Linked DNA regions of Homo sapiens: region 1 is linked to region 2. Evidence: fine-mapped expression QTL. A gene starts in region 2. The other region holds a variant in brackets. All regions are shown on one strand. Distances are between the middles of the regions. Region 1 holds the start of ZNF316 (zinc finger protein 316). Region 2 holds the start of INTS15 (integrator complex subunit 15).

Region 1 (15,699 bases), 48 kb after region 2:
TGGCAAATGGAGTCTGGGCTGGGGCCACTCCCCCATCAGGTGGCAATAGGGACCTGTTTGTTGGGGGTGAGTGGTGGTTACCTTTGGCTGCCTTTTTTTTTTTTTTTTTTGAGACAGGGTCTCACTCTGTTGCCCAGGTTGGAGTGCAGCTACAATCATAGCTTACTGCAGCCTCCAACTCCATGGCTCAAGGGATCCTCCCATCTCAGCCTCCTGAGCAGCTCAGACTACAGGCACACACCACCATGCCTGGCTTACTTTTATTATTTTTTGTAGAGACGGGGTCTTGTCATGTTGTCCAGGCTGATCTCAAATTCCTGGGCTCAAGCAGTTCTCCCACCTCAGCCTCCCAAAGTGCTGGGATTACAGGTGCTGGGATTACACAGACCAGGAACCGCCCCTGGGCTGATGCCCCTTTTTGACATGGTGGATGGGGTTCGAGATACAATAAGTTCTGCCAATCGCCTGCCTCCCCACGGGGCACCTGGTGGGCTGGAAACACGAGGAACATCAGACAAAGGAACCCAATCCCACTTCATCAAAAACTCAAAACAGGCTGGGTGCAGTGGCTCATGCCTGTAATCCCAACACTTTGGGAGGGTGAGGTGGGAGGATCACTTGAGTTCAGGAGTTCGAGACCAGCCTGGCCAACATGGCAAAACCCCATCTCTACTAAAAATACAAAAATTAGCTGGGTGTGGTGGCGGGCACCTGTAATCCCAGCTACTCGGGAGGCTGAGGCAGGAGAATTGCTTGAACCCGGGAGGCAGAGGTTGCAGTGAGCTGAGATCGTGCCACTGCACTCCAGCCTGGACGACAGAGCAAGACTCCATCTCAAAAACAAACAGAGACAATAGGGAAAAGAGACCTTAGTATAGAACTGATAGAACTGGGTTCAATTCTGGCCAGGCGCGGTGGCTCACGCCTGTAATCCCAGCACTCTGTGAGGCCGAGGCAGGCAGATCACGAGGTCAGGAGATCGAGACCATCCTGGCCAACATGGTGAAACTCCGTCTCTACTAAAATACAAAAATAATTAGCCAGGGGTGGTGGTGCGTGCGTGTAGTCCCAGCTGCTTGGGAGGCTGAGGCAGGGGAATCACTTGAACCCCAGAGGCGGAGGTTGTAGTGAGCCGAGATCGCACCACTGCACTCCTGCCTGGCGACTGAGCAAGACTCTGTCTCAAAACAAACAAACAAATGAAACAAAACCCTGAAAACAGAGGATGCCCCCCACACCTCCCCCATGAAGGGCTCCTGGCCTTCTGCCAACAGGAGGCAGCCTAGGGAAAGAGGGAGGACAAGCGGGCCTATGTCAGCGGCTGGTCCACCTGCCATCCTGCTGCTTATGTGAGCAGGAGGAAAGAGGAGAGGTGATTGGCAGCCTGCCCCAGGGACATGGCCTGCCTGGGCCTGTGCACCCCGAGACAGCAGGAAACAGCAAGAACAAGAAAAACAGATACCCACATGGACATTGCTGCTCAGCCCAGCCAGCCACTGGCCTGTTAGTGGGCAGCTTTCCCTCCCTGGAGGGCACTGGAGGTGGCTAACAGAGGTGGGCTGGAGCACCAGAAAGGCAGCCCCTCACTTTAGCCTCAGCTTGAGCTCCTGCACCGTGCCGCTGGCTATCATGGCATCCAGGGCCTTCAGCTCATGGCATCAGGCCTGGAGTAGGGCAAGGCCCCCCCACAAGTCCCAACCATGAGGTGCAGCCTGAGAGTCACACACCAATAATCAAGGGATGACAGAAAGAGGAGTTCCCCGGCCTGCATGGGGACAGGTGGTATTTCAGCCCAGCCTGAAAGGTGACCAGAGAGGGGGATGCAGTGGTGGTAGGGGACATTTGTCTTGAGCAAGAGCCTGAGGTGGGAGCTGGGGGCAAATCCAGGGGTCTGAGTGGTCCTGTGGCTGGAATTTCTTGCCCTGGTGGGGGGTCCATGGTGGCTATGAAAGGCGTCAGGTGCTGGGGAAGGTTATGACTTGCCAAGGTGGATGGGGTGTGGCATGTGGTCCCGATGGACAGCAGGAAGCCATCCGAAGGCTGTTTAAGGGAACCAGGTGAGAGATGACAAGACTTCAAGGTGACAGAGTTAAGCTCTGGTAACTGGAATTTTTTCTTTTTTTTTTTTTGAGACAGGGTCTGACTCTGTCGCCCAGGCTGGAATGCAGTGGTGCAGTCATAGCTCACTGCAGCCTTGAACTTGGGCTCAAGCTCAAGTGATCTTCCTGTCTCTGCCTCCTGAGTAGCTGGGACTACAGGTGTGCACCACCATGCCCAGCTAATTTATTTTTATTTTTATTTTTATTTTTATTTTATTCATTTGCTTTTTTTGAGACACAGTTTTGCTCTTGTTGCCCAGGCTGGAGTGCAATGGTGCGATCTCAGCTCACCGCAACCTCCCTCTCCTGGGTTCAAGTGACTCTCCTGCCTCAGCCTCCCGAGTAGCTGGGATTAAAGGCTCCTGCCACCTCATCCCGGCTCATTTTGCATTTTTAGTAGAGACGGGGTTTCTCCATGTTGGTCAGGCTGGTCTTGAACTCCCGACCTCAGGTGATCCGCCTGCTTCAGCCTCCCAAAGTACTGAGATTACAGGCGTGAGCCACTGAGCCCGACCTCTAATTTTTTTTTTTTTTTTTTTTTTTTTGAGACGGAGTCTCACTCTGTCACCCAGGCTGGAGTACAGTGGCGCAATCTCGGCTCACTGCAAGCTCCGCCTCCCAGGTTCACGCCATTCTCCTGCCTCAGCCTCCCGAGTAGCTGGGACTACAGGCGCCCGCCACCATGCCCAGCTAATTTTTTGTATTTTTAGTAGAGACGGGGTTTCACCGTGTTAGCCAGGATGGTCTCGATCTCCTGACCTCGTGATCTGCCCACCTTGGCCTCCCAAAGTGCTGGGATTACAGGCGTGAGCCACCACGCCCGGCCCCGACCTCTAATTTTTAAATTTTTTGTAGAGGCGAGGTCTTGCTATGTTGCCCAGACTGGTCTCAAACTCCTGGGCTCAATCAATCCTCTCGCCTCAGCCCCCCACAAAGTGCTGGGATTACAGGCATGAGGCACTGCCCAATAATTCCCAGTAAATGGGAATGATTGTTCAGCAGAAAACTGATCCCTTTGGGAAAGTTAACGTGGGGAGAATGTGGCCTGGCTCTATGGTCCTTGACACCACCGTGAAAGACCAGGTCACCCTCTGCCCATTGCCCTTCCAGAAGAAGCTTGTCCTCCCTGCCCCAGCTCCGAGTCCACCACAGTCTCCCACTCAGGCAGCTGCAAGGCATGCTGGGAGTGAGTGGCCACTGGGGCTGGGGGCTGTCGGGGGCAGAAAGGAGGAGCAGATTCCTCCCTCCTGGCACCTACAAAAGTGTGTCCACCAGACAGGGCTAGATCAAGTCCAGGTCCCCGCAATGGAATGGGAAGGAGCAGGCAGCAGTGGGGTCTCAACTGCCGATGAGGAGGCATGCAGGGCTGGAAACACAGTCTTTCTATTTCCTTGAGCGGCCTTCAGCCTCCCCGGAGCCTCTTCTCCACTCAGCCTTGACCTTTGAGTGTCTGTGCCCGTCTCTGCATTGCCCAGCTGTAGCAAAAATCCTGTCAAGTCAGTTTAGCCAGAATCTCCACCCTTGGTATCTGATCAAATCCCTCCTCTCCCACCACCTGCCAGGTGCCCTCTGATCACTCTTGCCTGCCTTCAGCCAGGATCCTGGGAGTCAGTTCAACCACAACCTCCCACTCCTTCGTATTTTTCCACCCACCCACTCCCCTCCAACCTGCTCCTAGGCTGGAAGTCTCCACTTGTCCCTGCTGTATTCAGAATTGAGCCCAGTTCTATACTGAGGTCTCTTTTCCCTATTGCAATAGTTCCTGAATAAAATCTGTTTTTTACCGTTTTAACTACTGTCCAGCTTTGTTTTCTTTTTCTTTTTTTTCTTGAGACAGGGTCTCAGTCTGTCGCTCAGGCTAGAGTGCAGTGGCACCATCATAGCTCACTGCAGGCTCACCCTCCCGAGTAGCTGGAACTACAGGCTCGCACCACCATACCTGGCTAATTTTTTCTACTTTTTGTAGAGACGAAGTCTCACTATGTTGCTCAGGCTGTTCTCGAACTCCTGGGCTCAAGTGATCGATCCTCCCACCTTGGCTTCCCAAAGTGCTGGGATTACAGGAATAATATGGTTTGGATCTGTGTCCCCACCCAAATCTCATGTTCAATTGTTATTTATTTATTTTTGGAGACTGAGTCTCCCTCTGTCACCCAGGCTGGAGTGCAATGGTGTGATCTCAGCTCACTGCAACCTCCACCTCCTGGGTTCAAGAGATTCTCCTGCCTCAGCCTCCTGAGTAGCGGGGATTATAGGCACTCGCCACCACTCCTAGCTAATTTTTGTATTTTTAGTAGAGACGGGGTTTCACCAGGTTCGCCAGGCTGGACTCAAACTCCTGACCTCAGGTGATCCACCCACTTTGGCCTCCCAAAGTACCGAGATTACAGGCCTGAGCCACCATTCCTGGCCTCTCAAGTTCAACTGTAATCCCCAGTGTTAGAGGTGGGGCCTGGTGGGAGATGATTGGATTATGGGGGCAATTTCTCATGGTTTGATACCATTCCCCCTGGAGCTGTCACCACGACAGTGAGTTCTTGTGAGATCTAGTTGTTTACAAGTGTGTGGCACCCCTCCCTTCTCTCTCATTCCTCCTGCTGCCACCATTTGAAGTGCTGGCTCCCCCTTCACCTTTTGCCATGACTGTACGTTTCCTGAGGCCTCCCCAGCCATGCTTTCTGTATAGGCTGCAGAGACATGAGCCAGTGAAACCTCTTTTCTTAAATTACCTAGTCTCTGGCAGTTCTTTATAGCAATAGGAGAACCGACTAACACGAAACATGAGTCACCGCTCCCAGCCTCACCTATGGTTTTAATAGCAGCACTACTGCCTTCAGCCCACTCCAGGCACACAGAGGCTCCGTGGGGGCATCCATCAGCATCCTTCTGTGCCAGGCTCCCTGCCAGCCCCTGGTGTGAGAGCTCAGGAGGAGCCCAGGAGGGCTTCCTGCAGGAAGAGACAGCTGAGGAAGTCCCGAGAGCCGAGTGAAGGGGAGCTCTGCCCAGTCAATGTTCAGTCCCTGCAGGTGGGTCTGTGCAGATACGGGGCAGGCCCATGTACTTGAACGGAGATGCTCTCGGCCTCACAGAATTCCAAATGCCCCAGATGCCTGTTAACTTTTCACATACCCTGTGTCCCTGCCAGTGAGACACACGAAGGCTGAAGCATAGAACAAGCTTCATGCCAATCACTGGGTGGGCTGGCACCCTCCTCACTGCCAGCACCCACCGTGGAGGATGGGCAGGAGCCAGGCAGATGACACCCCAGGAACTGTTTCATGAGTATGCTTGGATATTCCCCCAGCCCCAACCCCACCAACTGCTCATAGATAGATGACTGACATGGAATTGTACTAGTGCAAAAAGGGTATGATTTACTTTTTTTTTTTTTTGAGACGGAGTCTCACTCTGTCGCCCATACTGGAGTGCAGGGGCGCGATCTCGGCTCACTGCAACCTCCGCCTCCCGGGTTCAAGCGATTCTCCTGCCTCAGTCTCCTGAGTAGCTGGGATTACAGGCACCCACCACCACGCCCAGCTAAATTTTTGTATTTTTTTTTTAGTAGAGACGGGGTTTCACCATGTTGGTCAGGCTGGTTTTCAACTCCTGACCTCAGGTGATCCACCGGCCTTGGCCTCCCAAAGTGCTGGGATTACAGGCATGAGCTACTGCGCCCCACATTATTTAATTTTTGAGATGGAGTCTCACTCTGTCACTCAGGCTGGAGTGTAATGACACAATCTCGGCTCACTGCAACCTCTGCCTCCCGGGTTCAAGCGATTCTCCTGCCTCAGCCTCCCGAGTAGCTGGGATTACAGGTGTGTGCCACCACACCTGGCTAATTTTATATTTTTAGTAGAGACAGGGTTTCTCCATGTTGGCCAGGCTGGTCTTGAAATCCTGACCTCAGATGATCCGCCCACCTTGGCCTCCCCAAGTGCTGGGATTACAGGTGTGAGCCACTGTGCCTGGCCCCTAATTTTTGTATTTTTAGTAGCAACAGGGTTTCACCATGTTAGCTAGGCTGGACTTGAACTCCTGACCTTAGGTGATCCACCTGCCTCGGCCTCCCAAAGTGCTGGGATTACAGGTGTGAGCCACTGCACCCAGCTATTTTATTTTATTTTATTATTATTTTTTTGAGACAGAATTTTGCTGTGTCGCCCAGGCTGGAGTGCAATGGCACAATCTCGGCTCACTGCAAGCTCCGCCTCCCAGGTTCACGCCATTCTCCTGCCTCAGCCTCCCCAGTAGCTGGGACTCCAGGTGCCCACCACCATGCCCGGCTAATTTTTTGTATTTTCAGTACAGACGGGTTTTCACCGTGTTAGCCAGGATGGTCTCGATCTCCTGATCTCGTGATCCATCTGCCTCAGCCTCCCAAAGTGCTGGGATTACAGGCATGAGCCACCGTGCCTGGCCTATTTTATTTTATTTTTGAGACAGAGTTTTCCTCTGTCACCCAGGCTGGAGTGCAGTGGTGTGAACATAGTTCATTGCAGCCTCAACCTCTTGGGCTCAAGCAATCCTCTCACCACAGCCTCCTGAGTAGCTGGGACTACAGGCATGCACCACCACACCCAACTAATTTTTAAATTTTTAGTAGAGTCAAGGTTTCACTATGTTGCCCAGGCTGGTCTTGAACTCCTGGGCTCAAGCTATCTTCCTGCTTCGGCCTCCCAAAGTGCTGGGATTCCAGGCGTGAGCCACTGCACCCAGCTAATTTTTAAAAATGTTGTGTAGCGACAGGGTCTTGCTATGTTGCCCAGGCTGCTCTCAAACTCCTGGCCTTAAGCTTTCCTCCTGCCTCAGCCTTCCAAAGTGCTGGGACTACAGGCATGGGCCAATCCTGGCCTGCTTTTTAATTACTTCCTTCTTCAAATGAGTCTAGGGAAATCTATCAAGACTGAGTTCAGTAGTGAGTGACAAGAAGGTCCAACTAAACTACAGTTTATGACAACCAATTGTCCCCAGGTCAGAGGCATCCTCAGGTGGCCCAGGCCTGGTCTAGCATCTCCCTAAGGCCAAGGACACATAAGTCCCACCAGCTTCCTTCGTCTCCTCTCCGTCTCCTCAGCCCCTCAGCAGTGCTGTTGGAGCAAGAAGCAAAACTCACTCGTAGGGCCCGGTGAGGTGGCTCACGCCCTTTCCTTTCCTAAAAAGGAAAGGGAAAGGAAGAAAAGGGAAGGAAGAAAGGAAGGAAGGGAAAGAAAGAAGGAAAGAAAGGAAAGGAAAAGGAAAAGGAAAAGGAAAATTATCTGTGGACGAGGGAGAGGAAGAAATTGAGTCTTGGATTAGGTATCAGGTGAGGACAGGCCAAGAGGAGATCTGAGGAGATGCTGGGGTGATTCGGGGTCCCTGCCTGACAGGGTGGAGGGATCTAAGGCCGGGATGGAGCTGCTGACTCTATTATACACACTCCTCTTCTGGGGTCCCTTGCTGTCCACATTACAGGTGGTTTTGGGCAACGGGCAGCACTGGGAAGTGACAGGGTGCAGGAGGGCAGGGTTGGGGTACTCTCTCCTTGCCACACTGTCCCTCTATAATCACAGTGCCCACAGTGTCCCCATCTTTATATCTCCACCTCCCTCCAGGCTTGACAACATCCTGCCCTTTCCTGCTCCTGCAGGGCTAAGGGTGGCAAAGGCCTGGTGCCTTCACATTCCAGCTGCTTCCCTTTACCTGGTGTATTAGTCCATTTTCATGCTGCTGTAAAGAACTGCCCAAGACCGGGAAACTTATAAAAGGAAAGAGGTTTAACTCACAGTGGCTCTTGCCTGTAATCCCAGCACTTTGGGAGGCCGAGGCGGGCGGATCACGAGGTCAGGAGTTCGAGACCAGCCTGACCAACACGGTGAAACCCCATCTCAACTAAAAATACAAAAATTAGCCAGGCGTGGTAGTGCACACCTGTAATCCCAGCTACTTGGGAGGCTGAGGCAGGAGAATCACTTGAACCTGGGAGGTTGACGTTGCAGTGAGCAGAGATTGTGCCACTGCACTCCAGCTTGGGCAACAGAGTGCGAGACTCCATCTCAAGAAAAAAACAAAAACAAAACAAACCACCACCACCACCACCAACCACCACCAACCACCACCACCACCAAAAACTGACTCACAGTTCCGCATGACTGGGGAGGCCTCAGGAAATTTACAATCATGGTGGAAGGGGAAGCAAACACTTCCTTCTTCACATGATGGCAGGAAGGAGAAG[T/A]GTGGAGCAAAGGGGAAAAGCCCCTTACAAAACCATCAGATCTCATGAGAACTCACTAACATGAGAACAGCATGAGGCGAACTGCCCCCATGATTTAATTACCTCCCACCGGGTCCCTTCCACAACATGTGGGGATCATGAGAACTACAATTCAAGACGAGATTTCAGTGGGGACACAGCCAAACCACATCACCTGGTGACACTGCTTTTGGTCAATTGTTAATTGTCCTACAGTCAGAGCCCTTCCTGGGAGTGCCTGGGGGCAATTGCACCTTCCTACTGAACCTGACGGATCAGGTAGGGTGGGGAAGGGTCTAATCTAGGGATTAGGGGTTCTAAAAGATACCCACAGGAGAGTCAGGCAGTGTCATTCAGATGTGGGCCTGGAGGAAAGGGACAGGGAGTGGTGGGCACTGAGGACCATGGCCACGCTCAGTCCCACCCACAGAAGCTGGTTACTTCTCAGGCCCTACTGGCTGGTGCCCTGCAAACCAGGGGCCTTGTGTTGCCAGAACTTCTGATTTTTCAGATTTTATTTATTATTAGAGACAGGGTTTCAATCTGTTGCCCAGGCTGGAGTGGAGTGGTGCTATCATAGCTCACTGCAGCCTCAACCTCCTGGGCTCAAGCAATCCTCCCACCTTGTTTTCCCAAAGTGCTGGGATTACAGGTGTGACCCGCCTCGGCCCCCCAGAGTGCTTAATTTATAGGTGTGAGACCCCGCATTAGAACCTGATTTTTCAATTTTATTTTTTAAACAAGAATGGGACTCCTTATTTTAAAATGTTATTAACTTTAAGACATTTTAAGACACCAAGAGCCAAGCGACATCACTGTGAGGGTCTGATTCAAGGGGTTGGGGCTGCACCCCTCTGTGGGACTAAGGTTTGAGTCCTCCTCTATCTTATTATTATTTTGAGACAGAGTCTCACCTTGTCGCCCAGGCTGGCGTGCAGTGGTGTGATCTCGGCTCACTGCACCCTCTGCCTCCCGGCTTCAAACGATTCTCCTGCCTCAGCCTCCCAAGCAGCTGGGACTACAGGGGTGCGCTACCACGGCCGGCTAATTTTTGTATTTTTAGTAGAGATGGGGTTTCACCCACCATGTTAGCCAAGCTAGTCTCGAACTCCTGACCTCGTGATCCGCCCGCCAAGACCTCCCAAAGTGCTAGGATTACAGACACCGTGCCTGGCCGAGTCCTCCTCTATCTCTTGCCCAGTCAGGCCTGGGGTCCCCACAGAAAAGCACCAAGAACAGTGGTGCAGGCGGGCTGGGAGCTGGGGAAGGGGCCCAGGCCACACCATTCCAGGCGGAAGACAGACCCTGGACTCCACCAATGCCAGAGCTCATCCTGACACCCCAGCTGCACCTCTTGGGAGCAGGTGCAGACAGGCTTGTGGGTGGGGGTCTGGGGGTGGCCGCTGAGCTCACCGACCCCTCCCTGGGTTCCTGGGGTCGCCTGTCACTTCTGCCCCCACACTGGCCATGCCCTCTGCCTGGACATCGCTTCCCTGCCCGTGACCCCATGTCCCTCCAAGTGCGGGCTCCACAACCCCAGTCTCCTCCTGCACTCAACCGCCACAGTCCACCCATAAGACGTTCACCCCGCCCGTCCCTCCTCCCTCCCCACCCACAAGACGTTCACCCCGCGCGGGCCCGGGGATCTGGTGGAGGCGTGGACACCTGGCCCCCTCCCCACCACAGGGGTCGCCTCCTCCCTCCACCATCCTGGGGTCCCGGGCAGGCTCCGTGGACTGGCGGAGGGGGCCCAGCGCGGGGCCTGGTCCTCAGCGGGCGCCCCGATGAACGAGGCCGGGCTGGGGTTCGGGGAAGGCGGTGGTCGCAGCGGCGGGACCTCGGGGTCACCTCCGAGACCTGGCCAGGGTGTCCAGGAGCGGGGCGAGGTTGTGGGCGCCCCACGAGTGTCGAGGGCGCTCCCGTCCCCTCCCCGCATGCCCCGTCCTCGCCCCGGCCCGAGGCCCAGCTGGGCAAACCCCCGCAACCCGCGCTTCCCCGCTCCGCGCCGCTGCCCCCGCGTGACCGGAAGTTCCTCCCCCCGCGGGCGCGGGCGGGGCGGGGCCGGCCGGCGGTACTTCCGGTGCCCACGCGCCGCCGTCGCGCAGCTCCCGGGCCGTCACTTTGTGTAGCGCGGGGTCCGCCGCCGGCCCGCAGGCCCCGGCCCCGGTGTCCGGCCCGTGGCTCGGCCAGCCCGGCCCGCGCGGTGAGTGGGTCTCGCGGGGCCGGTGGGCGGCGGCGCGGGCGGCAGGTGCGGGCGGGCCGGGCTTGCGCTCGGGGGCGGCGGCGGCGGCGGGGCCGGGCTGGCCCTCGACGCCCGGCGCGGGGAGGCCGCGGGGAGGCGGCGGGGCCGGGGCCTGCAGAGTCGGAGCGGAACGCGGGTAGGGACTTCCGCGGCAGCGCCCCCGCCTCCCGGACCCCCGTCCGGGCCTGCGCGTTGCCGACCCCCGGGGCCGGTCCGGGCAGGAGGCGGAGGGGGCAGGCCCGGGAGGCCACGCGTGACACCTCGGGGTGCCCGCCCACGCCTTCTCGGCCGCAGCGGCAGGGGCTGGGCCGCGGCCGCCCCCAGGACACACCCATCCAGGAGGGGCTGTCATCGTCTAGGTCTCTGCAGGAGGAGGCGGCTCCGGACGCCCCCTGGGGGGCGGGAGGCGCTCGGCCCGTCGCCCCAGGAGCCCGCTTTGTGACCTTGGGGGCCTTATCCGGGCTTTCCCTCATCTGCAGAAGGAGCCCCGGTGGGCTGCTCGGCTGTCTTCTGCTGCCGGCAGGTAGGTAGGGACACCCATCCCTGGGATTGGATGGGGTCTGGGCTGTCCCGCGTGGCAGCAGAGGTAGGAAAGGGGCTGGGCTTTGGTCGAGGACCCGATGGGCAAGAGGAAGTGCAGGTACCAGGAGGATCAGGCCCCCAGCTCTGCTTGTGTGGGGAGACCTCGGTGCTTGGTTTGGTTCAACAAGTGTGGGCAGGTCTGGGGGCCGGGTGGGGTGGTGAGGGGGCTACCCTGGGGAACCTGAGATGGCCCCCGTGGAAATAACCTGCACCAGGAGCAAACCCAGGAAAGTAGGGGGATCCAGAATCCGAGGACAGACAGTGAGGACTGTGGTGGTCGGGGAAGGAAGTCCTTCAGGAGGGCATGAAGACCCGAAGGGCTCTGAGGGCAGCGGGGGCCACCCAGAGGGAATGAAGGGGGCTAGACACAAGCACACCCCCACATCTCCCGCTCTCTGAGTTGGGTTTCCCTGGCTTTGGAGCTTTTGTGAGGAGTTTCTATCAACTTTCAAGCTTTGCCTCTTCTTCCTGCCCTTGCCTCGCTCCCTTCTCCTCTTGGGAGATACCTTGTCACCTCCCATTCTAAATGTTGGCTGCAGCACCGTATCCTAGAGTGCAGGGCCCTAGTAGAAATGAGGGTTTGGGGCCGGGTGAGGTGGCTCACGCCTGTAATCCCAGCACTTTGTGAGGTCGAGGCGGGTGGATCACCTGAGGTGGGGAGTTTGAGAAATGAGGGTTTGGGATGACGTTGGTGAAGCTCCCTGTGGCCTCTGGTTTGGGATTGATGCTGATGAGACCCCCTGTGGCCTCTGACCCAGAGTTGGATGCCGAGGGAGAAGTGAGCAGTGTTTACAGTGGACTGGCAGGCTGGCAAGAAGAGGGCAAGAGTGCAGGCCTGGGGGAGGCAGAGATAACCCAGGGGGAGTTGCTGGAATCTAAACTCTGCCCGGACTGCTGAGGTCCGTTTTTCAAACCATTATGTTCTGAATCTTGGGTTGGGGACGATGTCTGGCTGTGCTTCTGACCTCTGTAGGAGCTGGTCCTCCACCTTCTCTGGTCATCCGTGGGTGGACTTCTTGGGAGAAAGAACTCAGTGTCGTCTTTGGAGGCAGAGACTCTCCACTGCTTCTGGGGTGAGTTCCAATTCCAAGGGTCCCCCCAACCCCCTACCCCCAGCAGTGGTCAGTCTGTTCTGGAACAGGACAGTAGGGCCAAAATGCTGAGTTTGAAAAATCCTGTGTCCATCACATTGGCTGGCGACTTTAGACATTCTTTTAGTAAGTATTTGAATGCTTCTTAAGTGCTGGTGTGAGGGGTATTCAGACATGAGCAAAGGGAGCTTCTGCCGCCCAGGAGCTGGCTGTACTCAGGGAGAGAGATGATAAGACAGTCTCATAAGTGTATTTTTAAGATGTGGTGAGTGCTGTGAGGGAAGAATTACAGGGAACTGTGTCACCCACTGGGGCCCAGGGGGCTGCCTCAGAAGACCACCCAGGAAAAGGGGAAGAGAGTTCTGGGGATGGGGAATAACACACACACGGCCTGAGATGAGATGAACATGCAGCCACTTTATTCCAAAGCTGTGAAGTGTTCTTCTGTTGTGTCCTCATATATGGCGGCCTGGCTCTGGGAGTTTAAAGTTGCTGCTTCAGGTGGTGGCCAGGCAGGAGACAGCTCTACTGAGCTTGGCATGGCACCTAGGCCCAGCCTGAATCTGCGGCCTGAGGCTTGAAAGAGAAAAGCCCTCCTCTGGGCCTCAAGTGGGTGGCAGTTGGGAAACCGTTGCTGCGTGTACCCAGCGCCCTGAGTGCTGGGCAGGGCCGTGTCCTCCTGGAGGTGGCTAGCATAACACGCAGCACGTGGATTTCGACACTTTGGGCATCTTCACACGCCAAAGAGCTGTGGACACTGAGAAGGTTGGCTTCTGGGAGAGGCTGGAGGTTGGGGTGGCGCTCCCAGGCGTAGTTCTGTGACTTGAGTCTTTGGGGGTTAGTGATTCTGAAACTAGAAAGGGGGCTGGAGCCAGTCAGGGGGCACGTGTGACCTTCGGGACAGAGGTGGCTTCTGGATGCCTGTGTGTCCCAGCCTTTGACTTGGGTGAGCCTGTGTGAATGCTCAGAGCTTCCTGGCTATTAAAGTGTGGATTTTAAAGCAACTGCTCAAAGCAGTTCAGGAAATGAGTACGCGCGGCTGCTATGGTTTGGGTGTTTGTCCAGGTGTCAGGCTGTTCTCGCATTGCTGTAAAGAAATACCTGAGACTGGGTCATTTATAAAGAAGAGGTGAGACTGGCGCATGGTTCTGCAGGCTGTACAGGAAGCATGGTGCTGGCATCTGCCTGGCTTCTAGGGAGCCTCAGGAAGCCTTTAATCATGGTGGACGGTGAGGGGGAGTAGGTATGTCACATGGCGAAAACAGGAACAAGCAAGAGAGAGTGAGTGGGGAGGCGCCACACACTTTTAAAGACGACCAGATGTCCTGTGAACTCATTACTCACTGTCTCCAAGGGGATGGCCCAAGATTCAGGAGGGACCCACCCCCATGATCCAGTCACCTCCCACCAGGCCCCGCCTCCAGCATTGGGGATTACGGTTCAGCGTGAGATCTGGGCGGGGACAAACATCCAGGCTCCATCAGTCCCCTTCCAGTCTCACGCTGAAGCATGATTTCCAGTGCTGGAGGCGGGCCTGCTGGGAGGTGATTTCCAGTGTTGGAGGTGGGCCTGGTGGGAGGGGATTGGCCCATGGAGGCGGATCCCTCATGAATGGTCTAGCACCGTCCCCTTGGTGATAAGGGAGTTCTCAGTTCACAAGAGATCTGGTTGTTTTAAAAGAGTGGGGCTTCCTCCCTCTCTCTTGCTGCCCCTTTGCCTCCCTCCACGAGTGGAAGCTTCCTGAGGCCCTCCCCAGAAACAGATGCCGGCGCCATGTTGGTGCAGCCTGTTGAACTGTGAGTGAATGAAACCTTTTTTCTTTGCCACTTACTCAGCCTCAGGTATTCCTTCACAGAAATGCAGAAATGGCCTAACACAGCTGCGCTAATTGATAGAGAAGTGATGGGTTATGGAGGGAGAGCTAATCACGGAGCAGCTTTCTCCTGTGTCCGTAAGAACACCAGGCGTGGTGGTCTGGACTGTTCTCGTGAAGGCCACTCAGTCTTGTTTTAGGAGTTCTGTGGCAGACACTGTCCACTGCTCGAGCTGGATGAGCTAGGGTGGGCCCAGTGCTCTGTGTGGCCAAGTGGCCTGACATTCCAGGATGCTTCTGGGGCTCATGGCCTCTCCCCCTGGATTCTGGGCTTGGCTTGCTTTGGAAATGGCCCTGTTCAGGCCAGAGACACTGATGGTGTGTGTCCTGGGTAATGGGCCCGGTCTCAGGTTTATACCCAGAAAGGAGCCACAGAAATGGACTCATCAACGCTATGACTCTGCCGTGCCCTTGGGACCCCACAGGGGCTAGTGAAGGACACGCAGTGGGGAGGGGCGAGGGGTCCCAGGGCCAGCAGCTCCCATCCTGCTGTGTCCATGGCCCTGGACCCTGGACCCTGTGTCAGTGTGGCTGCCTCTCCCCTGAGCTTCTGGGCTGAGCTGTTACTGATGTCAGTGAGAGAGTAGGACGCTGTAGCCTCTAGGGCTTTGGTAAGTCAGCCCTCAAGAGTCTCTGATCCCCAAACTTGAAATGTCACAGGCATTTCCTGTCCTCCTGATGGTCTGGCGATGAGCCGTGTGTCCACCATGCACTGCGCTTTTCACAGAGCGAGGGCTGAGGGCACATGAGGGTGATGCTGGCTCACAGCCCCCACTCTCCCATGTCCTGCAGGAAGAAGCCTGACCTGCCGGCTTCCTGGCACCTGTCTCTCCTCCTAGCCCCGTTGTGCCTTGCAAGTGCCTGCATCCTGTCTGTGCTGAGACCTCTTGGCGTTCCCTGCTGGCCTGGTTCATGTGTGTTGAGGACCAGGTAAGCGTCTCTTTGTCCTGTGTATCAGGTGGGCTTTTCCTTCTGGCTAAACATGGGCCACCCTCGGGCTGTGTGATGCTTCCTTGTGGATAAAGACTGGGATAAATGCCTGATTTACTCCAGGAAAGAGCAGCAGTTCACACCAGGCACGTAGTTCTTGGTGAAAAGGAGCTGAGACTGGCATCCCAGGGGTCACGCGGAGGGGCCATTGGGGCAGCCTTTCTGGGTACAGAATGTCTTGATGGTGCAGGGTAAGATCGTGGGAAGGCCCGGTCCTCCCTCATCTCCATTGCCTTCAACTACATAACAGGAGGAGTAAATCCTGCTCCCTGCGCCCCCGCCAGGCTGCGGGAGACCCTGTGAGGGGACCGTGTGGTGTGCTGAGAGCAGCCCGTCACTGGCGTCCATCTGCATTTCAGGCCACGTGGAGGCTCGCTCCCAGGGAGGATGGCGGCGCTCCACACGACTCCCGACTCCCCAGCTGCCCAGCTGGAGCGGGCAGAGGACGGGTCAGAGTGCGACCCTGACCAGGAAGAAGAGGAGGAGGAGGAGGAAAAGGGGGAAGAGGTGCAGGAGGTGGAAGAAGAGGAGGAGGAGATAGTGGTGGAGGAGGAGGAGGAGGGTGTGGCAGAGGTAGTGCAGGATGCGCA
Region 2 (13,665 bases):
GGCGGAGGTTGCAGTGAGCCAAGATCACGCCACCGCACTGCAACCTGGGTAACAAGAGTGAAACTCTGTCTCAAAAAAAAAAAGTTTATCTTTCTTTTTTTATTTTTTATTTTATTAAATTGAGACAGGGCCTCACTATGTTGCCCAGGCTGGTCTCGAACTCCTGAGCTCAAGCGATCCACCCACCTCTGCTTCCCAGAGTGCTGGGATTACAGGCATGAGCCACTGCACCTGGCCCAGAATTTTTATCTTGATTGAGGGAGCTCAGGACCATTTTGGAGGCCCCACTGAGAGGCAGCAGGCCTCTGTTATGTGTGCCTAAGAATTGGTGAATTCTGTTCTGTTTGTCTTTCTGCTTTTTGCTTTGAGATGTCATTAAAGTCTAGATGAATTCTGTTTTGGTAGCCATTTGGGAGTTGATGTCTGAGAATGTGTGCCATGGAAGAAACCTTTCAGTAGCAGATAGTCACACTCTTTCTGTTCCTTTGTAGCTGCAGGATGGACTTTCTGGTCCTCTTCTTGTTCTACCTGGCTTCGGTGCTGATGGGTCTTGTTCTTATCTGCGTCTGCTCGAAAACCCATAGCTTGAAAGGCCTGGCCAGGGGAGGAGCACAGGTAAGGATGATCCTTGGATGGCACTGGAATTTGAATACTGTGTTAGTCTAAGAGACTCACAGGTTTTGCTACAGGACAAAAAAGAGATGCCAGGCCGGGTGCAGTGCCTCACACCTGTAATCCCGCTACTCAGGAAGCTGAGGCAGGAGGATCCCTTGAGCCAGGAGTCTGAAGTTGCCATGAGCTATGATCACGCCACTGCACTCCAGCCTGGACTACAGAGTGAGACCCTGTCTCAACAACAACAAAAAAGATGCCACTTAACATCATTGATGGATTTAGTTCGTTGATGGCAGTTGTGGGATATTCCACAGCCTCTGTCTGTGTGGGTTTTGTGTTCCTGCTGAAAGTCCTCTTGCGGTGGTGCTTTGAGAGAAGAGGTTGCTGTTTTCCTCTGGATTAGATGCCTGTGATTGGGCATGGATGTGAGCAGGGTCCGCCTGGGGCACTTAATGGGTGACTCTGGGGGCCAGCAGAAAGCTCAGCATTGGCTGGCCCCCCTCCTTCAGGGATCAAAGTGAGCAAAACGGGGCAAGCAGCCTATGGGAAGGCATTGAGTTGGGAGGGACCTGGGCCAATGCCCAGTGATCTGGGTGTGGATGCTGGAACCTGGGATTGAACCCAGGCTGGGGAAGGAGCGGCCTTCACATTGACATTCCCCGACCCATCCCCTCTGCTCACCTCTCTTTCCCTGAAGACACTGACAGGTGCCTTCGTCAGAATCAGACTAGAAATGGAGTTGGCGTGAAAGGAAAGACCAGTAGAAAGAATTCCCCTCTTTATTCTCTGCTAAATCACTTCTTCACCCATATAGGGAAACAAAACTTACTATCACCCAGATTGCCAGCTGTATGTGGAGTGTCTGATTTGTTTGGGAGTGGAGGAAGTGAGAAATGAAATTGAGTCTTTCTCTTTCCTTTTGTTTCAGATATTTTCCTGTATAATTCCAGAATGTCTTCAGAGAGCCGTGCATGGATTGCTTCATTACCTTTTCCATACGAGGTATTTCTCTTTCAGAGTTTAAATATTCTCCTCTTTTCTGCTTTGATTATTAATTGTTGAGATCCTCTAGCTTCAGGAAGCTCCTTGTGGTTTCCAGCATGGTGAGGGAAAGAAGGCCGGAAAGAATCACGAGTCCTGAGTTGGGAGCCTCTACTCGTAGTTAATCTGCCTTTTGAGATGGAGGTTTTAACTTGCCTACTTTTAAAAAGCGATATTTACAGATTGTGAATTTCTGTTAAATACATGCAAAATGTTTCACATAGTTTTCTATGTAATTCTTACTATTATCTCAAGCCCAAAGGAAGTGGTTGGCCGTTGGTTACTTTCTTTAGTATCATACAATTTCTTCAAGAAGAAACCCCCATGAACAAGCCATGCCTGTTTTCTTTCAGAAACCACACCTTCATTGTCCTGCACCTGGTCTTGCAAGGGATGGTTTATACTGAGTACACCTGGGAAGTATTTGGCTACTGTCAGGAGCTGGAGTTGTCCTTGCATTACCTTCTTCTGCCCTATCTGCTGCTAGGTGTAAACCTGTTTTTTTTCACCCTGACTTGTGGAACCAATCCTGGTAAGTTGAGGCTCTTAGCATACAGCATGGTGACAGCTCCACTGTCTTACTAATAGTGCTGCAAACAAGGAGAGGCCCCCCCTGAGGACTTTGTAAAAGATTTGATGTGTAGCATTTTCATTACCTTTCAGTTTTGAGTGTTTTCTAATTTTTTTTTTCTTCTTCAACCCATGGGTTATTTAAAACCACTTAAAATTTTTAGTTTATCTTTTTAATGCTTTCACTTCGTTTTGTCATATATAGAGCATGTGATCGGTATGGTACTGTTCCTTTTTTTGTTTCTTAAGACGGAGTCACGCTTTGTCGCCCAGGCTGCAGTGCAGTGAGGCGATCTCAGCTCGCTGCAACCTCCGCCTCCCGGGTTCAAGGGATTCTCTTGCCTCAGACTCCCGAGTAGCTAGGACTACAGGCGTGCGCCACCACACCCAGCTGATTTTTGTATTTTTAGTAGAGATGGGGTTTCGCCATGTTGTCCAGGCTGGTCTCGAACTCCTGACCTCGTGATCCACCCACCTCAGCCTCCCAAAGTGCTGAGACTACAGGCGTGAGCCACCGCACTGGCAGAATTGTACACTTTAAATGAGTGAATTAGGTTTGTGTGTTATATCTCAATAAAGCCATTATTAAAAATGAATTGCGTGGCTGGGCGCGGTGGCTCACACAATCTCAGCCTGTTTGGGAGGTCTAGGTGGGAGGATCACCTGAGGTCCGGAGTTCCAGACCAGCCTGGCCAAAATGGTGAAACCCCATCTGTATTAACAAAAAAAATACAAAAATTAGCCACGCGTGCATTAGCACGCCTGTAATCCCAGCTACTACTCAGGAGGCTTACGTGGGAGAATCACCTGAACCTGAGAGGCAGAGGTTGCAGTGAGCCAAGATCATGCCACTGCATTCCAGCCTGGATGACAAAGTAAGACTGTCTCAAAAAAAAAAAAAGAATTACTTACGATATTAAAGATAGCAGTTTCAGTTGTGTTTTATCAGGACGGGTTTTGTGACTATCCAGTCCAAAGTATTGCACGAAACTGACATATGTCCTTACTTTTCCCAGGCATTATAACAAAAGCAAATGAATTATTATTTCTTCATGTTTATGAATTTGATGAAGTGATGTTTCCAAAGAACGTGAGGTGCTCTACTTGTGATTTAAGGAAACCAGCTCGATCCAAGCACTGCAGTGAGTGTGGCTCTCGTGACTCCAGCGGCACCTCCAACAGCACATGTGTGGGCTTCGTCTGTGAGGGAATGTTTCCTGAATCCGAAAGCAGAGCCAGTTCACCCCCAGATATGGTGTGGCCACTACTTGTAGAGTTGAGATAATGGTTTCTTTCAGATGAGTGAGGGTCAGGTCTTGTGTTCCTGTGTAGTAGACAGTCCTCATCTCTGGGCATAACAGCCCTTCCCTCGCCACGTGGCAGGACATGCTCCCCACAAGTTGTTTCTGCGGATGTTGTGTTTGCAGATTTCAGTCCTACAAAGCCTAGTCTTCTGGGGAGGGCCCAAGATTCTAGACCCGTGCTGTCTAACAAAAATAGAATGTGGCTGGGCGCAGCGGTTCATGCCAGGAATTCCAGTACTTTGGGAGGCAGGCAGATCTCTTGAGCCTAGGAGTTCAAGACCAGCTTGGGCACCATGGGGAAACCCCACCTCTACAAAAAATACAAAAGATGTAGTCCTGGCTACTCAGGAGGCTGAGGCGGGAGGATCACTTGAGCCCAGGAGATCGAGGCTGCAGTAAGCTATGATTAAACCACTGCACTCCAGCCTCAGCAACAGAGCAAGACCCTGTCTCAGAAAAAAAAAAAAAGGCCATGAATAGAAAGTTTTTAAAAATGTTTTTCAAAATGTGGCTGTGCTTGGAGACAGTTTTAATCAGGATGTTATTTAACCTACATATGTAAAATATCATTTTAACATGTAATCAATGTAAAAAATTCTTCATGAGATAGTTTATATTCTTTTTTTCATACTAAGCCTTTGAAATCTGGTGTGTATCTTACATTTATAGCACATCTTGATTTGGACACTAAATTTTCATGTGGAAATGCTTGTGTATTTAGATTTAATAAAATGTACAGTTGAAAAAGTAGGCTTACATGTGCAAGCTATATCCAGATATTCTTAAAAGTTTTCCAATATCTGAATTCGGTACCAAAAAAATAATTTTCCTTCACCATCCATGTCTACATTGACATAATGATTCATCTTAATCAGAAGAATTGACTTTAAAGCAGGAACACCAGTTTTAAAACTATGTCTATCCAAGTCAAGTAAATTAACTAACTCTTGTGTTGCCTCCATATTCACACTGAATTCAAAGGAGTATTGTAGTAAAAAGACAACTGTAAATTTGTCAGTATTGACAAAATGTCCTCTCTGTTTTTTGGTTTGTTTTTTGAGATAGGGTCTCACTCCATTACCCAGGCTGGAGTGCTGTGACGTGATCATAGCTCACTGCAGCGTTGACCTCCTGTGCTCAAGTGATCCTCCCGCCTAGCCTCTGAGTAGCTGGGACCATGGGTGCATGCCGCCACCACCTCAGATTTGTCTTGTAGTCAGATTGCAAGTGCTCAATACCCACATTTGGCTGGTTGCTCCTGTACTGGACACCACAGTTCCAAAAGCTTAGTTTGGAACTAAGCAGCTGCCATTTTCCTCTGATGACACATCCAGTGGACAGATTATGAAAATCTCAGCAGGTGTGCGGTGTCCTTGTCTCGTCAAGCACCATCCCAGCACGTGCCCCCTTGTTTCTGTGCAGGTGTGTGTAACTGGTGTGTGCACCGTTTCGACCATCACTGTGTTTGGGTGAACAACTGCATCGGGGCCTGGAACATCAGGTACTTCCTCATCTACGTCTTGACCTTGACGGCCTCGGCTGCCACCGTCGCCATTGTGAGCACCACTTTTCTGGTCCACTTGGTGGTGATGTCAGATTTATACCAGGAGACTTACATCGATGACCTTGGACACCTCCATGTTATGGACACGGTCTTTCTTATTCAGGTAATTATGCTGTAGGTTTCTGACTTCAAGTTTCAGAATCGCAAAAAAGACATTTATTTTTCCAGTAAAAGCATGAAGTTAGGTGGGGTGTGGTGGCTCACGCCTATAATCCCAGCACTTTTGGAGGCCGAGGTGGGAGGATCGCATGAGGCTAGGAGTTCAGGACCAGCCTGGGCAACACCCAAATGTCCATCAACTGATGATTGAATAACTGGTCTCCTGTAGAGACCTTGTCTCTACAAAAAATACAAAAATGAGCCAGGGCCGGGTGCAGTGGCTCATGCCTGTAATCCTAGCACTTTGAGAAGCTAAGACAAGCAGATTGCCTGAGCTCAGGAGCTTGAGACCAGCCTGGGCAACATGGTGAAACCCCATCTCTACTAAAATACAAAAAAATTAGCTGGGTGTGGTGGCACATGCCCATTGTTCTAGCTACTTGGGAGGCTGAGGCACAAAAATTGCTTGAACCCGGGAGGGAGAGGTTGCAGTGAGCTGAGATTGCACCACTGCACTCCAGCCTGGGTGACAGAGCAAGACCCTGTCTCAGAAACTAACAAACAAACGTGAAGTTTTTCCTTTTTCTAAACTGATATAAAATTCACATATTGGGCCAGGCATGGTGGCTCACAGCTGTAATCCCAGCACTTTGGGAGGCCAAGGTGGGTGGATCACCTGAGGTCAGGAGTTCAAGACCAGCCTGGCCAATGTGGTAAAACCTCGTCTCTACTAAAAATACAAAAAAGTTAGCCAGGCATGGTGGCCAGCATCTGTAGTCCCAGCTACTCGGGAGGCCGAGGCAGGAGAATCACTTGAACCTGGGAGGCGGAGGTTGCAGTGAGCCAAGATCGTGCCATTGCACTCCAGCCTGGGCAACAAGAGCGAAAGAGAGAAACTCCATCTCAAAAAAAAAAAAAATTCACATATCATAAAATTCACCCTTTAAAGTATCCCACAGTGGTATAAGTATATTCACAGACTTGTTCAGCCCTCACTACTATCTAATTTCAGAACATTTCATCATCCCCAAAAGGAAACACTCCCCATTCCCTCCTCCCCCAGACCCAGGTAATCACTAATCTACTTTCTGTCTTTCGGGATAGGCCTTTTCTGGACACTTCATATAAATGGAATCATGCAATATATGGTCTTTTCCACTGGCTTCTTTCTTGTGGCACAAGGTTTTCAGGGTTAATTCATGTAGCACGAATCTACTTCATTCCTTTTGTTTATTTGGGATGGAGTCTCGCTCTTGTTGCCCAGGCTGGAGTGCAATGGTGTGATCTTGGCTCACTGCAACCTCTGCCTCTCAGGTTCAAGCAATTCTCCTGCCTCAGTCTCCCGTGTAGCTGGGATTACAGGCATGAGCCACCACGCCTGGCTAATTTTTGTAATTTTAGCAGAGAAGGGGTTTTACCATGTTGGCCAGGCTGGTCTTGAACTCCTGACCTCAAGTGATCCACCCGCCTCGGCCTCCCAAAGTGCTGGGATTACAGGCATGAAACCCCGTGCCCGGCCTTACTTCATTCTTTTTTATGGCTGAATAGTATTCCGCTGTATGGATAGACTGAATTTTAATTATTTGTTCATCAGTTGATGGACATTTTGGTGTTTTCACTTTTGGCTATTTTTGAGTAATACTGCTGTGAACATTCATGTACAAGTTTTTTGTGTGGACATAGGTTTTTATGTTTATAAAACATGTTTTATGTTTATGTTTTTATGTTTTATGTTTATATTTCTCTTGGGTACATTCCACCTAGAAGTGGCACTGCTGGGTCATATGGTAACTTTTTTTTTTTTTTGAGACAGAGTCTCACTCTGTCACCTAGGCTGGAGTGCAGTGGTACCATCACAGCTCACTATGACCTGGACCTCCTGGGCTCAAATGCTCCCACCTTGGCCTCCCAAAGTGCTGGGATTACAGGTGTGAGCCACCATGACTGGCCCAGAATCACTTTTGATTTGAGGTCTTTATATAATAATGACGGTTAATCTTTTGTTATACTGTTTTTTTGTTTGTGGATCTTTTGGATCTTGGGAATGGGGTTTTGGGTTTTTTGGGGTTTTTTGGTATAGAAAAGTTCAGACATTCTTTCTCATCAAATTTCTTTTCTTTGTAACTTCAACAAGAAAGTCTCCTCCATCAGGAGTTTTGTTAAATGTTCTCTTTTCTTGTGACTTTCAAAAATATTAAACTTTCTAAATTCTTCATTTTGCTTATTACAAAAATAACTTACAAAACTTTAAGCAGCGCAGTTCCTATGGTCATATACCATTTACGGAGTCAGTTTTGTTTTTACCCAAACAAGATGACAGTGTAATCCTTACATCTTGCCTTTCTCATTAGTCAATATATTAAGTCTTTTCACAATCAGTACATAGAAATTGACATCATTTTTCATGGCTCCTCGTTTTCCCATTGTGTGACCATCCCAGAGTTTACCCTTCCTGACGGATGGACATTTAACTTGTTTCTTGGCCAGGCACAGTGGCTCACGCCTGTAATCCCAACAATTTGGGAGGTCAAGGCAGGAGGATCACTCAAGGCCAGGAGTTTGAAAGCAGCCTGGGCAACATAGCAAGACCCTGTTTCTATTGATTTATTTATTTATTTATTTATTTTTAGATGGAGTCTTGCTCTGTCGCCTAGGCTGGAGTGCAGTTGCACAATCTCAGCTCACTGTAACCTTCACCGCCCGGGTTGAAGCAATTCTTCTGCCTCAGCCTCTTGAGTAGCTGGGATTACAGGCTTGTGCCACCACACCCGGCTAACTTTTGTATTTTTAGTAGAGAAGGGTTTCACCATGTTGGCCAGGCTGGTGTCAAACTCCTGACCTCAAGTGATCTGCCCGCCTCGGCCTCCCAAAATGCTGGGATTATAGGCGTGAGCCATTGCGCCCGGCCCCTGTTTCTATTTATTAAGAAAAGGAAAAAAACTTCGGAAGAGGGGCTGATAAAATCAATGATACAACGAATATCCTTGTACATCTATTTTTGGGGTTGTATTGTTTTAAGAAAGACATTGATCTCTTTTGTCCATCTGGATTTTATATTGATGAATGAAGTCTGCATTTATTTTATAAATAGCTAACTGGAATAGCACATTTCCTAAGTAAACTTTCCCTTTTCCTTCAGTGTGAACACTTCATTCATCCCACAGGAAACTCTTGTATGTACTGGGATTATTCTGGGCTGCTTCTCAGTGCTGTTTATGTTCAGTTTGTCACATCTGGACACAAGTAGGTGGGCTGAGGAAGCAGCGCTGGTGGCTGTGGCAGGCCCAGGGTTGGCCAGTGTTCACTCTCATGGATGTCACAGTCCAGCTGCCTAAAGCACTACCTTTTCTCTGCTCCTAGTACCTGTTCCTGACTTTTCCACGGATTGTCTTCATGCTGGGCTTTGTCGTGGTTCTGAGCTTCCTCCTGGGTGGCTACCTGTTGTTTGTCCTGTATCTGGCGGCCACCAACCAGACTACTAACGAGTGGTACAGAGGTGACTGGGCCTGGTGCCAGCGTTGTCCCCTTGTGGCCTGGCCTCCGTCAGCAGAGCCCCAAGTCCACCGGAACATTCACTCCCATGGGCTTCGGAGCAACCTTCAAGAGATCTTTCTACCTGCCTTTCCATGTCATGAGAGGAAGAAACAAGAATGACAAGTGTATGACTGCCTTTGAGCTGTAGTTCCCGTTTATTTACACATGTGGATCCTCGTTTTCCAAGCATGGCTTGTTTGTTTTGATTTCTGCTGTGCTTATAAATCACTTTCGGTGGGCAAGGGAGAGAGGGGAAAATGGGTGTTGACTGAGGAATCCCCCTTGCTTGTCTTCTTTTGAAACCGGGCATCTCTGAAGTCCTGGTGTCAAGGGGATCAAGAGATGACTTCTCAGAGGTTCTAGGTGATGCTGAGACCTTGGTGTCTCTAAACTCTGGGCATGTGGACAGGAGGGGCTTGCGGCCGTGTCTCTGACCTGTGTGATGTGCAGGAGGGTCTCATTGACTCAGCGCCTGCGCGTTGTGCCTGGCTGTGCTCTCTTTTATGCCCCCTCTATTCTCCTCTCTCCCCCAGGGGATTTTCATCTCAACAACAGAGTGTCCTCACCCAGGCCTGCCTTCCGGCCAGTATGGGCTTGTACATCAGGCACCTTCCTGCATGTGTGGCCTCCGGCCTGCCCTCCTCTAGCCACATTCAAGTCCTTTCTCACCAGTTTAAAAATTGTGAAAGTGAACTGCCACCTATTTCAGAGGAGACATGACTGCCAGAAACGAGGTCTTGGTGCGGAAGGTCTTTGGAGTGGGAGGGCTCTCAGGTGCAGGTGGCAGGTGTTCTGCACCTTGCTAGGCCAAGGAGCCCGCAGTCAGAGAGGCTGGGAAGTGGGAGTCAGGGGCAGGGGGCCTTCCAGCCATCTTCCCCCGTACCCCCCAGCTGAGAACAGATGGAAACGTGAAGACGGGTAGCTGGGGCGGCCAGGGAACCCAAGTCCGCTGGCCGAAGCCAAAGCCCGGCACCACCCCCAATTCTTGCTGGTGGAAAGCACCGTGAAATCAACCAGCGGCAGCTCTGAACGCGACGCACAGCCCGCGAGGGAGCCTGGGCAAGGACGGAGCGGGCCTGCACCGGCGGTTGGGCGGGCTCCGGGGGCGGGGTCCACCTGGGACCGCGGCGCGCCCCTCACCGCTCGCGCCGCCAGGGGGCGCCCTCCGGAGAGCGCGCCTAGGCCGCGGCCTGCGCTTGGCCCCTGCGGGCCGCCGTCTCCGTGCCCGGCATTCGGCCGCTGTTCGGCTGCGCGGCGGCAGCTCCCGGCGGCTCCTGGCGGCGCCGCAGTCGGACCTTCGGGCGCCTGCTGGCCGGCGGCAGCAGCGATGGCCCCCTGAGCAGGCAGGGAGCAGGCGGCGGCAGGCGGGCAAGCGGGCGGGTGCCGCAGCCCAGGCCCGGGTCGCGCCTCTTTGTTTCCACGGGTAGCGGCGCAGTCCCGGGCCCCGGGCGGAAGTGAGACGCGCTCGGCGCGGGGGCCGCGGCGGCCGCACCATGAGCGACATCCGCCACTCGCTGCTGCGCCGCGATGCGCTGAGCGCCGCCAAGGAGGTGTTGTACCACCTGGACATCTACTTCAGCAGCCAGCTGCAGAGCGCGCCGCTGCCCATCGTGGACAAGGGCCCCGTGGAGCTGCTGGAGGAGTTCGTGTTCCAGGTGCCCAAGGAGCGCAGCGCGCAGCCCAAGGTGCGGCCTGAGACGGTCGGGTTCCCGGGCCCCGCAGGCGGGCGGGCGGGCCTTTTCCCCAGCGATGCAGGGCTGTGTCAAGCCGCGGGCGCCCCATGTCCAGGATCCCCGCGCTCGCGCTCGGCCTCGCTCCTGCAGCAGCCCCCAAACCCTTCTCCGGGTCCTGCAGTGTTGCTCAGCTGCCTGTCCAGTCTGCGGGGCGTGTGACAGCCGAGTCTTGGTGTTAAAGGGACAAACTGGCGACTGCCCGCTCCCTAGAGGTCTGTTGGGCTGTTACCGAAAGGCTCATCCTGAACCCTCCAGGAGGATGTATAATGATCTGTATGGCTTTCTTCTTACATCTTTTTCTTTTTTTTTTCTTTCTCTGCCTTTTTTTTTTTCGAGACAAGGTTTCACTACGTTGCCCAGGCAGGAGTGCAGTGGTGCAATCACAGCTCACTACAACCTTGAACTCCTGGGCTCAAGTAATCCTCCCGCCTCATCCTTCTGAGTAGCTGGGACTCCAGGCGTGCACCACCATGCCCAGCTAATTTTTGAATGTTTTGTAGAGATGGGGCCTCCCTGTGTTACCCAGGCTGGTCTCAAACTCCTGGGCTCAAGATTCTCTCTCCTTGGCCTCCAAAGTGTTGGAATTACAGGCGTGAGCCACAACGCCTGGCCTATATGACTTTTTTCTAAGATCAACAGCAAAGATCTCCCTGAGACCTGAGCTTTACGAAGGGCGAAAAGTTCTACGGGAACTTTACGAAGGGCGAAAAGTTCTACGGGAAAATACTGTTATTTCCTGTTTTTCTTTTTTTTTTTTTTTTTGAGACGGAGTCTCACTCTGTCACCAGGCTGGAGTGCAGTGGTGCGATCTCGGCTCACTGCAACCTCCGCCTCCCAGGTTCAAGCGAGATTCCTGCCTAAGCCTCCCGAGTAGCTGGGATTACAGGTGCGCGCCACCATGCCGGCTAATTGTTGTATTTTTAGTAGAGATGGGGTTTCACCATGTTGGCCAGGCTGGTCTCGAACTCTTGACCTCGTGATTCGCCCACCTTGGCCTCCCAAAGTGCTGGGATTACAGGCATGAGCCACCGCGCCCAGTCTATTTCCTGTTTTCTTAATGTATGAGTTAATAAGTACGTTACAGCCACATTTCTTAACGCTTTTCCGGGATTTCTTTTGCAGAGACTGAATTCCCTTCAGGAGCTTCAACTTCTTGAAATCATGTGCAATTATTTCCAGGAGCAAACCAAGGACTCTGTTCGGCAGATTATTTTTTCATCCCTTTTCAGCCCTCAAGGGAACAAAGCCGATGACAGCCGGATGAGCTTGTTGGGAAAACTGGTCTCCATGGCGGTGGCTGTGTGTCGAATCCCGGTGTTGGAGTGTGCTGCCTCCTGGCTTCAGGTACTGCTCAAGAGAGACCCTCGGCCGGGTGCGGTGGCTCATGCCTGTAATCCCAGCACTTTGGGAAGCTGAGGTGGGCGGATCACTTGAGGTCAGGGGTTCAAGACCAGCCTGACCAACATGGCGAAATCATGTCTCTACTAAAAATACAAAATTAGCCGGGCATGGTGTTGCATACCTGTAACCCCAGCTACTCAGGAGGCTGAGGCAGGAGAATCACATGAACCCGGGAGGCAGAGGTTGCAGTGAGCTGAGATGGTGCCATTGCACTCCAGCCTGGGTGACAGAGCAAGACTCCGTCTCAAAAAAAAAAGAGTCTCCCCTGAGAGTCTCTGAAGATGATTTTGCTGTTCGGAATTCTCATTTAATTAGATTTCTGGAGTGTTTTTTGTTTGTTTGTTTAAATTATTTTTTTTGGCCATGCTTAGTGGTTCACTCCTGTAATCCCAGCACTTTGGGAGGCCGAAGGGGGGCAGATCACTTGAGGTCAGGAGTTTGAGACCAGCCTGGCCAACATGGTGAAACCCTGTCTCTACTGAAAATACAGAAATTAGCCAGGCGTGGTAGCACGCGCCTGTGGTCCCAGCTACTTGGGAGGCTGAGGCAGGAGAATCGTGTGAATATGGGAGGCGGAGGTTGCCGTGAGCCGAGATTGTGTCACTGCACTCCAGCCTGGGTTACAGAGTGAGACTCAGTCTCAAAAAAAAAACTTTTTTTTTAAATTAGGGTGTGTTTTTTTTTCTTTTTCTTTTTTTTTTTCTGACAGGGTTTCAGTCTGTCACCCAGGGTGGAGTGCAGTGGTGCAATCTTAGCTCACTACAGCCTTTGCCTCCTGGGCTCAAGTGATCCTCCTACCTCAGCCCTCCAAGTAGCTGGGACCACAGGCGCACACCACCATGCCTGGTTAGTTTTTGTATTTTTTTGTAGAGACAGGGTTTCACCATGTTGCCCAGACTGGTCACGAACTCCTGAGGTCAAGCGATCCTCCTGCCTCAGCCTCCCAAAGTGCCGGGATTATAAGCATGAGCCACTGCGCCCAGCTTAAGAATAAGATTTTAAGAGAAATTTAGCAAGTACTGCTGTAAACACACATTTTCATCATGTGGCAGTTCACTGACTCTCCTGAATCTCTTCAATGTGATAGCAGCTGTTAATTTTTACCTGTGGCATCTCACCTGGGATCCTGTAGGGTACAGAAGTTGTCATTTCCTCACCTGAAGGCAGAAATGATGTTTCCTAAGTAAACTGTAAAGCAAGAGCTGGCAGATGTTTTATGTAGAGGGCGAGATAGTGAACTGTCTTCGGCTTTGCGGGTCCTGTAGTCTCTTTCACAGCTACTCACCTCTTTCCTTCTAGTGCAAGAACAGCTTTAGGCAGTAAGCAAACGAATAAGCGCGATCACGTCTCAGTGAAATTTTGTTAACAAAAACGGGTGGTGGGACAAATTTGGTCTGTGCGGTGGTTTTTTTTTTTTTTTTTTTGAGGCAGAGTCTTTCTCTGTCGCCCAAGCTGGAGTGCAGTGGCGCGATCTCGGCTCACTGCAAGCTCTGCCTCCCAGGTTCACCCTAGTCTCCTGCCTCAGCCTCTCGAGTAGCTGGGACTACAGGCGCCCACCATCAGTGGTGCCGGCCAATTTTTTTGTATTTTTAGTAGAGACGGGGTTTCACTGTGTTAGCCAGGATGGTCTCGATCTCCTGACCTTGTGATCCGCCTGCCTCGGCCTCCCAAAATGCTGGGATTACAGGGATGAGCCACCACACCCAGTCAGGTGGTGTTTTTCTGTTTTTTTTTTTTTTTTTGAGACGGTCTTGCTCTGTTGCTCATGCTGGAGTGCAGTGGTGTGACCACGGGGCTCACTGCA

The links. PIP is the estimated chance that this variant, and not a neighbour inherited with it, causes the effect.
Region 1: its variant is fine-mapped to the expression of INTS15 in whole blood (TOPMed, PIP above 0.99). The same link has a PIP of 0.9 or more in neutrophils.

What each region holds. Positions count from the first base shown.
Region 1 is chr7:6,626,914-6,642,612 of GRCh38, forward strand. It overlaps ZNF316 (zinc finger protein 316), which reads left to right and starts at 10,405. Exons shown (of 9, transcript NM_001278559.2): 1 at 10,405-10,534; 2 at 10,933-11,096; 3 at 12,129-12,228; 4 at 14,912-15,049; 5 at 15,469-15,699. The coding sequence starts at 15,497. RefSeq lists silencers at 10,085-10,504, 10,745-11,174 and enhancers at 11,235-11,284, 13,505-13,799. The variant T/A (reference allele first, on the strand shown) is at 8,314.
Region 2 is chr7:6,580,064-6,593,728 of GRCh38, forward strand. It overlaps INTS15 (integrator complex subunit 15), which reads left to right and starts at 9,958. Exons shown (of 6, transcript NM_024067.4): 1 at 9,958-10,412; 2 at 11,583-11,804. The coding sequence starts at 10,221. ZDHHC4 (zDHHC palmitoyltransferase 4) reads left to right here. Exons shown (of 8, transcript NM_001134389.2): 3 at 492-615; 4 at 1,544-1,617; 5 at 2,010-2,188; 6 at 3,243-3,368; 7 at 4,953-5,197; 8 at 8,554-9,311. The coding sequence starts at 499. The coding sequence ends at 8,847. It overlaps LOC124901582 (a long non-coding RNA gene), which reads right to left and starts at 9,841. Exons shown (of 2, transcript XR_007060201.1): 1 at 9,397-9,841; 2 at 8,860-9,162. RefSeq lists enhancers at 9,100-9,938, 9,563-9,712 and a silencer at 9,783-10,282.